Regions from separate parts of the Homo sapiens genome. Here region 1 is linked to region 2. Evidence: fine-mapped expression QTL. A gene starts in region 2. The other region holds a variant in brackets. All regions are shown on one strand. Distances are from middle to middle.

Region 1 (4,517 bases), 380 kb after region 2:
GCCTTCAAGGGCCTTTCCCCTTTTCTTGGCAACCAGCACTCAGCTCCTTTTCATGCAAATAACTGAAGCCTTCATGAATTTTCTCCCTGAAAGTGGACTTTTCTTCTTTTACCACACTGCCAGGTTGTGATAAAGATAGCTGACAGTGTAGAAGCAGGTTCAGAAGTGGGTAAAAGACAGAGGTCAGGAGAATTGGGAAAGCTTGGAAGACAGCAAGATGAGGAAAATTTGACCACTGTAGAGGATTGTTAAATACTTGCGATCAGAAGGCTGACAGAAGGATAAACACTGAAGTCCAGACTTAAAAGGTCTCAGATGAAAATTAGGAATTTCCTGTGAACAGGAGCCAAGGTTACATTTGATTGGCCTTAGCAAAGAACGTGGCTGCACGGTGACCCTGCCCTGGAGATCTGTGAAACTATGAACTTGGGGGTGATGATTTAGGATGTATCTGGTGGAATGAATATCTAGGCAGCAAAGCACAAGAGGTGTCCTGCCTGCATTGCACAGCCTGTGTTCTTATGTGTGACCTAAGAAATGATTTCAAGTTGGAACTTCTATTTCAATGAGAAGTGGAGACCTAAAGTTTGCAAAATCTGCAGCCTGGCCAAGTCGTCAAAAAGAAAAGCTGATTTTCAGGGGGAAAATTCAAGACGGCTTAGGGTATCTGTATAAAAACAAGCCCAGTACAAATAGCCAAGACAATGGGAAAAAGGCCTTGAAGGCATTTCAGGTTCCTCTGCAGCAGCCCTTGCTGTCACAGGCCCTAGGGCCTGGCAGAGAAAAATGGTTTCCTGGGGAAGCTTCATGGCCTCATTGCTCTGTGCACCCTCAGGACACTGCTGGCTGCATTCCTGCAGCTCCACCTCCAGCCATGGCTCAAAGATGCACAGGTACAGCTTGGGTTACTGCTTCAGAGGTGGCTCCAAGCCTTGATGGTTTCCATATAATGATAAGCCAGCAGGTGCACAGAGTAAGAGACTAGAGGCTTGGGAGCCTCTGTCTAGACTCCAGAAGATGCACAGAAATGCCTGGATGTCCAGGAAAGAAGCTTTTCCAAGAGGCAGGGCCTCTTGGGAAACCTCTACTAGGGGAACAAAGAAGGGACATATAGGATTGAAGCCCCCACACAGGGAGGCATCATTCTCCAAACCCCAGATTCATAGACCCACAAACAGCTTGCACCCTCAGTATGGAAAAGCTACAGGCACTCAACACCAGCCCTGTCCATCAGGGCAGCTGCAGGGGCTGAACACTGCAAAGCCACAGGTGCAGATCTGCCCAAGGCCTTGGGAGCCCAGCCCTCACACCCCTGTGCCATGGATTTGGGACAGGGTTTCAAAAAGGATGATTCTGGAGCTGTAGGATTGAGTGACTGGCCTGCTGGGTTTTGGACATTTATGTATCCTATGAGTCCCATCTGTGTTTTGTGCTTCTTTCTAGCAATTTTTTTTTCTATTGGTTGAGAATGCTTACCCATTGCTTGTACAATCATTGTACTTTGGAAGTAGTTAAGTTGCTTTATAATTCAGAGACTCATGGCAGAAGGGACTGTAGACTTGTCTCAGATAAGACTTTGGGCTTTGGACATTTCAGTAAATGCTGGAGTGTGTTAAGATTTGGGGGACTGTAGGGAAGGCATCATTGTATTTTGCAATGTGAGAAAGACATGAGATTTGGGGGACCCGGGACAGAGTAATATGATTTGGCTCTGTGTCTCTCCCAAAACTCATGTGGAATTTTAATGGGGAATGTTAAAGGTGGGGGCTGGTGGAAGGTGATTTAATCATGGTGGAGAGTGGAGGTTGGATGGGAGGGATGGGGAGAGTTGGAGGGTATTGGGGGGGGTGGGAAGAGTTGGGAGGGATTGTGTTTGGTTGGGGTTATGGGTAAAAGGTGGGAGTGGGGGTGGATCCTTCACAAATGATTAAACACCATCTCCTTAATGCTGCCCTTCTGAGAGTGAGTTCTCTTCATGATTTTGGAGCTGTGAGATTGAATGAACACTGTCCTGCTGGGTTTTGG[G/C]TGTGCATTGGGCCTATGGTTCCACTTGTGTTATTTTTCTTGGAAATTTCTTCCCTTTGGATTGAGAAAACTTACCCAATACCTGTACCATCATTGTACCTCGAAATAAATGAATGCCATTTTAACTTCAGGGACTCATAGGCAGAAGAGACTGTAGCCTTGTCTCAGATGAGACTTAACTTTTCACATCTGAGTTAATGCGAGAATGAGTTAAGGCTTTTGGAAACTTTTGAAAAGGCATGATTGTATTTTACTGTGTGAGGAGTGCATGAGATTTGGGGGGATCAGGGTCAGCATAATATGATTTGGCTGTGTGCCTCTAGAAAAACACGTGGAATTATAATCCCAAATGTTGGAGGTGGGGCCTGGTGGGAGATTATTTAATCATGGATGGGAGGTGTGGGGGTGGGAGAAAAAAGGGTTGGGTAGGGTGGGGAACAGTAGGCCGGCTGTAGGGTGGTGGGAGGGTGGTGCGTAGTAGGAAGGGGGAGTAGCATGCTGCAGAGGCAGAGGCTGATGGAAAACCTCTACCAGGCCAGTGCACCTGTGGCTTTGCAGGCTTTAGCCCCCATGGCTGCCCTTATGGCCTGGGCTGGTATTGAGTGCCTATAGCTTTTCCATACTGAGGCTGCGAACTGTTGGTAGGTCTATGAATCTGGGGTCTAGAGGATGGTGGCCTCCTGCATAGCAACTCAAAGCCCTTGTTTTCCTTCTGCACTGCCATAGAACAGGATTTCCAAGAGGCTCTGTCTCTGCAGCAGGCTTCTGTCTGGAAACAATAGGGGGTGGAGGTGTGTTGTGGGGTGGCTCCTTCACCAATGGTTAAGCACCATCTTCTTGATGCTGACCTAGTGACAGTGAGTTCTCAGGAGATCTGGTTGTATAACAGGCTGTGATGCCTCTTTCCTCTCTCAGTCTTTCTCCTACTCATGCTGTATGAAACATTTCATTGCTGCTTTCCTTCTGGTATGATTGGGAGGTTTCCTGAGTCTTCCCAGAAGCAGAAGCCACCATGCTTTCTTTACAGCCTGCAGACCCATGAGCCAATGAATCCCCTTTTCATTATTACCACACAGAAAATAAGTACTGCAAAGTGGAGCTATGAAATATCTTCAAGGACTTTTCCCCATTGTCTTGGCTATCAGCACTGGGCTTCTTTTTAACGCAAATATCTGAAGCCTTCTTGAAGTTTCCCCTGGGGGAGAGTGGAGGGTATTAAGGGGGTGGGGAGAGTTGGGGGGGATTGTTTTTGGGTTTACGCGTGAAAGGCAGGAGTGCCAAACTGCAACAAAGATAGCTGAAAGTGTAAAGCAGTTTCAGAAGTGGGTAACAGCCAGAGGTTGGAGAGTTTGGAGAGCTTGAAAAAAGACAGGAAGATGAGGGAAAGTTTGGACCATTGTAGAGACTTGTTAAATAGTTTTGATTAAAATGCTGACAGAAGGAAGGACAGTGAAGGTCAGGCTTACAAGGTCTCAGATGAAAATGAGGAACTTACTGGGAACAGGAGCCAAGGTTACTTTTGTTTTGCTGTAGCAAAGAACGTGGCTGCAGGGCGATCTTGCCCTTAAGATCTGTGAAACTTTGAACTTGAGGGTGATAATTTAGTGCATATCTGGTGGAATGAACTTCTAGGCACCATAGCACAAGAGGGATCCTGTCTGCATCAAACAGCCTGTGCTCTTATGTGTGACTGAGGAAATGACCTCAAGTTGGAATTTCTATTTAAATGGCAAGCAGAGCTCAAAAGTTTGGAACATTTGCAGCCTGGCCAAGTGGTCAAAGAGAAAAGCTGATTTTCAGGGGGAAAATTCATGAAGCCTCCAGAAATTTGCATAAAATGGAGGCCAGTGCTAATAGCCAAGACAATGTGGGGAAAAGCCTTGGAGGCATTTCAGAGATGTTTGCAGCAGCCCTTGCTGTCACAAGCCCTGGGACTTAGGAGAGAAGAATGGTTTCCTGGGCCAGCCCCATGGCCCTGCTGCTGTGTGCAGCCTCAGGACACTGCTGCCTGCATCCCAGCAGCCCCAGCTCCTGCTCTGACCTTGGCTGAAAGATGTACAGGTACAGCTTGGGTCACTGCTTCAGAGGGTGCAAGCTATAGGCCTTGGTGACTTCTATATAGTGTTAAGCCAGTGGGTGCACGGAGCACTAGTCCAGAGACTTGGGAGCCTCCATATAGATTTCGGAAGATGTATGAAAATGCCTGGGTGTCCAGACAGAAGGCTGCCCAAGAGGCAGAGTCTCATGGGAAACCTCTACTAGGGCAGTGCAGAAAGAAAATATGAGGTTGGAGCCCCCACACTGGAGGCCACCATCGTGCAGATCCCAGATTCATAGACCCAACAAAAGTTTCATACCCTCCATGGGTTAAAAACTCCAGGCACTCAACACCAGCACAGCCCATGAGGGCAGCTGCGGGGGCTGAACACTGCAAAGCCACAGGTGCAGAGCTGCCCAAGGCCTTGGGAGCCCAGCCCTCACACCCTTGTGCC
Region 2 (4,257 bases):
CCCTGTTTTTCAGCTTTTGCCCCTCACACACCTGAAATGGCATGCTTGAAAACTACTTTTTTTTTTTTTTTTTGAGACGGAATTTCACTCTTGTCGCCCAGGCTGAAGAGCAATGGCATCATCTCGGCTCACTGCAACCTCCACCTCTCGGGCTCAAGTGATTCTCCCACCTCAGCCTCCCAAGTAGCTGGGATTACAGGCACCCGCCATCATGCCCTGCTAATTTTTGTATTTTTGTAGAGACGGGGTTTCACCATGTTGGCCAGGCTGGTCTTGAACTCCTGACGTCAAGTGATCTGCCCACCTCGGCTTCCCAAAGTGCTGGGATTACAGGCATGAGCTACCGCACCTGGCCTACCAATGCATTTCTGATCCTATTATCTCTATTTCTTTCTTTTTTTTTTTTTTTTTTTTTGAGACTGAGTCTCGCTCTGTCACCCAGGCTGGAGTGCAGTGGCGCAATCTTGGCTCACTGCAAGCTCCGCCTGCCGGGTTCATGCCATTCTCCTGCCTCAGCCTCCCGAGTAGCCGGGACTACAGGCGCCCGCCACCACGCCCGGCTAATTTTTTGTATTTTTTTAGTAGAGACGGGGTTTCACCGTGTTAGCCAGGATGGTCTCGATCTCCTGACCTCGTGATCCGCCCGCCTCAGACTCCCAAAGTGCTGGGACTTACAGGCGTGAGCCACTGTGCCCGGCCATATTATCTATTTCTCTGTAGCTTTTCACTGTTCGGACAAGCTTCTGCTTATTCAAGTGGTTACTGTAACTGCTATGATACTGCACTAGCTTTTCTTCCAACCACTAAAATTGCTGTCTTTCTGTGACTCTTTTTCCCCACTTTTGCCCTGGAAACATGGATGCTGCCCATAGCTCAGTCTTTGTACTTTCTTCGTTTTTGCCATCCCTCAGAAAGTCCATCCACATTCAGGGCTCCATTTTCAAACTCTACAGATGTCCATGTCCTGTAATTGTATTGTAATTTTACAATACAACTGTATTGCATTCTTCCAGACTCATCCTGCATTTCCAAATGACTGCAAACCTTAAATCAGGCGTTCCACCATCACCTCAAAACTATCTTCCTTTAGGCAATTCCACACATCAACGCCTCTTCCTGGCTTTACATTTGTATCAGATGTTTTATTGTTCTCCCAGGTGTCCCAAATTCAAACTCTTACCTCACTCTCTTTCCTCCCAAATCTAGTCACCAGGCCCTTTTGACTCTTCTTTTGCAGTGTCATCTGTATCCTTCCCTTTCACTACCACCACCATAATTCAAGTCCACAACATCTTACTCCAAAACTACCATACATTCCTAAGTAGCTCTCTGCTACTGGTCCTTTCCCCTCTCTAGTCCTGAATGTGACCTCTAGAATAACTGTCTCCAAATAGTTTCATTCGTGTCAGTCCCTGGATCACACCTATATAAGCCACCTTGCCTACTGAGTCTTGTCCTGATTCTCTGAGTCCCGGGCCCTGGCTCCCAGCGTACCTTTTCTTCAACCTTGTCTACCACTGTTCCTGCATTTCTGTAAAAACTATCTCCAGCTCAAATCTGCCTAACGCTTAGCTGCTTCTTTCGTGGTTTTTGTTTTGTTGTTGTTGTTTTTCTTTCACGTCAAATCCCACCTCCTCCATGAAGCCCTCCAGCACTCGTGCGGAGGCCCAGGGCAGGGAGCTAAATGAGGCAATCTGAGGCGCTGTCTGGCAAAGACGGAGCGGCAGCATCCTAGATTTGGTGTCAATTCCACCCACGTTCATTAAGCACCCATTATGGGAAGAAGAAACGGGAGAGGCGGAGGAAGACTCCAAACCTCCAACCTTAAAGTCCGGGACCGACATACAATGGGTGCCCAGACCCCACGGGACACACGCACACACGGGGGTGGATGCACAACTTTCCGTCCGCACCGAGACGTCGCGACACACGCTCTGCAGGCTGGCCTCGCCCGTGTCACCCCGTTTTGCTCCCACAGCACCTCCCCAAAGTTCTCATGTCCCCTCTCTCGGCTGCTGCGCTCACTCCGCTCCTTGAAGACACACACCCACAACCCTCACCTCCGGCACAGAGTGCTCGGGACCCGGGAAGACGGCGCCTCTTCAGGTCGGGAAACCAACGCGCCTGCGCACAGGGTCCTGGCGACTGCGCTCCCAATCAATGCGGGGCCTTCGCAAGGACTTCATCTCCCAGAAGTCTCGGCGTCCGGTGCGCTTTAATATGACGTCCGAAAATGTGTGCAAACGCCGGCTTCCCGTGGCTGAACAGGATCCAAAATGGCAGCGCTGTCGCCTTAGCTGGGAGAGCGAGCCGTTGTGGCTGTTTGGGAGACTTATGGTCACCCTGAAGTACTGCCTGCCTCTAGTGTCGCGTCCCTCCAGTATCCGATGGGAGCGCCGTCCGCAGGGAATGTGTCTCTCTGATCATGGTGCCTCGTGTCCAGCTCTGGGGAAGACCGAGACGAAATCGAGTCAGCTGGCGTTGGGAGAGGGCTTATTTCCGCTTCCGCTTGCCCACTTTCAGGAATTTGATTCTGAGAGCAGGGCTGCGGTTCCAGGCAGGGTTTGTACACATATTTGCGTTGGAAGGAGAGAGGAGCCTAGGACACATATGTATTAACTGTGCAGCTGGTCCGACTCCCGACAGCTTCAGCGCACACCAGCCAGCCTTGGAGTTGCTGGAACGGCCCTGGCTGCAAGCTGGAATCACCCGGAGAGCTTTCGACATTGATGCCTGAGGCCCAGCTGTGGAGCGACAGTTTGAAAAGAGCTGCAGGTGACTCTAATGTGCAGCTAAAGCTAGGAACCACTGAGCTACATCTCAGGGAAGACTGAAAATTACAAAGAATATGATAAAATCTTACTTCAGGAACAAAGCTACGTTTTTCCAGGTTAATTTATTAGTGGTTTGGGTTTTTTTTAAGTTTTTGTGGGTACACAGTAGGTGTGAACATTTATGGGCCACCTGAGATATTTTGACACAGGCATGCAATAAGTAATAATCTCATCAGGACAAATGGGATATCCATCACCTCAAGCATTTGTCCTTTGTGTTACAAACGATCCAGTTATATTCTTTTAGTTACTTTAAAATATACAATATTATTGGCTGTAATTACTCTGATGTGCTATCAAATACTAGTTATACTATTTCTTATTCTATTTTTTGTACCCATTAACTATCCCCACTTCCCCACCCCGCCAACCCTTCCCAGTCTGTTAACCATCCTTCTACTCTCCATCTCCATAAGACTACACTTTCATTCAAAAAATCCAAATTGCTCACCATAAGCAAGGCACAGTTACAAATATGAGTAAGTTACTGCCCCAAATGAACTCTTGGTCCAATGGAAAAAATCAGAATGTAAAATCACAATAGAGGCAGTATGTTCTATAATTATGTCACATTCAACATACTATGAGAGTACAATGGAGGAAGCTATTAACTATGGCCGGGAAAGGTGGGAAAGGATTCCTTTCACTGGTATACTTAAATACTTAAGAAAAAAAAAGTGTGATCTAAACAGTGAATAGTACATGCAAAGGCATAGTCTAGAGGATAAAAGTGAAAATAATTAGTAGCAAAATGAATGCCTTGTGGATGAGGTTTAGGGGCCAATAACTATCTTGAGGTAAGGCCAGGTTGTGGCTGCCTTTGTGTTGTACTAAGGGGTTTGGACCTTCCTAGGAGATTAGAGCTTGATTAAAGTCACAACATCCATAAGAGAAATACTTTTTTTTTTTTGTTCCCTTCTGTGTGGTGGTTTTTATTATTTAGCCTTATACTGAGGGTGGAAACTGGGGTCCTGAAAGTGTTTCCTTCTAGAATATTCCCCACCCACTGGCAGGCCCTAGGCTTTGTCTTTACCGCTTCCAGGTAGCTGCCAAAGTGGAAGTTTATGTGCTCTAGGATTTAGCAGTCTAAAAGTCAGGTTTGTTGCTCGATTCTCAGAATTCTAGCTCTCACTTTATTTATTTTTTGAGACAGGCTCTGGCTGTGTCAGCCAGGCCAGAATGCAGTGGCATGCTCTCAGCTCACTGCAACCTCCACCTCCTGGGCTCACGTAGTCCTCCCATCTCAGCCTCAAGAGTAGCTGGGACTACAGGCATGCACCACCATGTCTGGCTACTTTTTGTATTTTTTTGTAGACATGGGGTTTTACCATGTTGCCCAGGCTGGTTTCAAACTCGGGCTCAAGCAATCCACCCTCTTCGGCCTCCCAGAGTGCTAGGATTATAGGCATGAGCCACTGCACCT

What was found. PIP is the estimated chance that this variant, and not a neighbour inherited with it, causes the effect.
Region 1: its variant is the best candidate, but not a certain one, in a credible set for the expression of ZNF2 in whole blood (TOPMed, PIP 0.52).

What each region holds. Positions count from the first base shown.
Region 1 is chr2:94,779,320-94,783,836 of GRCh38, reverse strand. It overlaps the pseudogene ANKRD20A8P. Among named protein-coding and RNA genes, the nearest start is that of FAM95A, 20 kb to the right of the region's middle. The variant G/C (reference allele first, on the strand shown) is at 2,026.
Region 2 is chr2:95,163,664-95,167,920 of GRCh38, reverse strand. ZNF2 (zinc finger protein 2) reads right to left here and starts at 2,112. Exons shown (of 5, transcript NM_021088.4): 1 at 2,061-2,112. RefSeq lists enhancers at 1,996-2,425, 1,853-2,487, 2,488-3,124.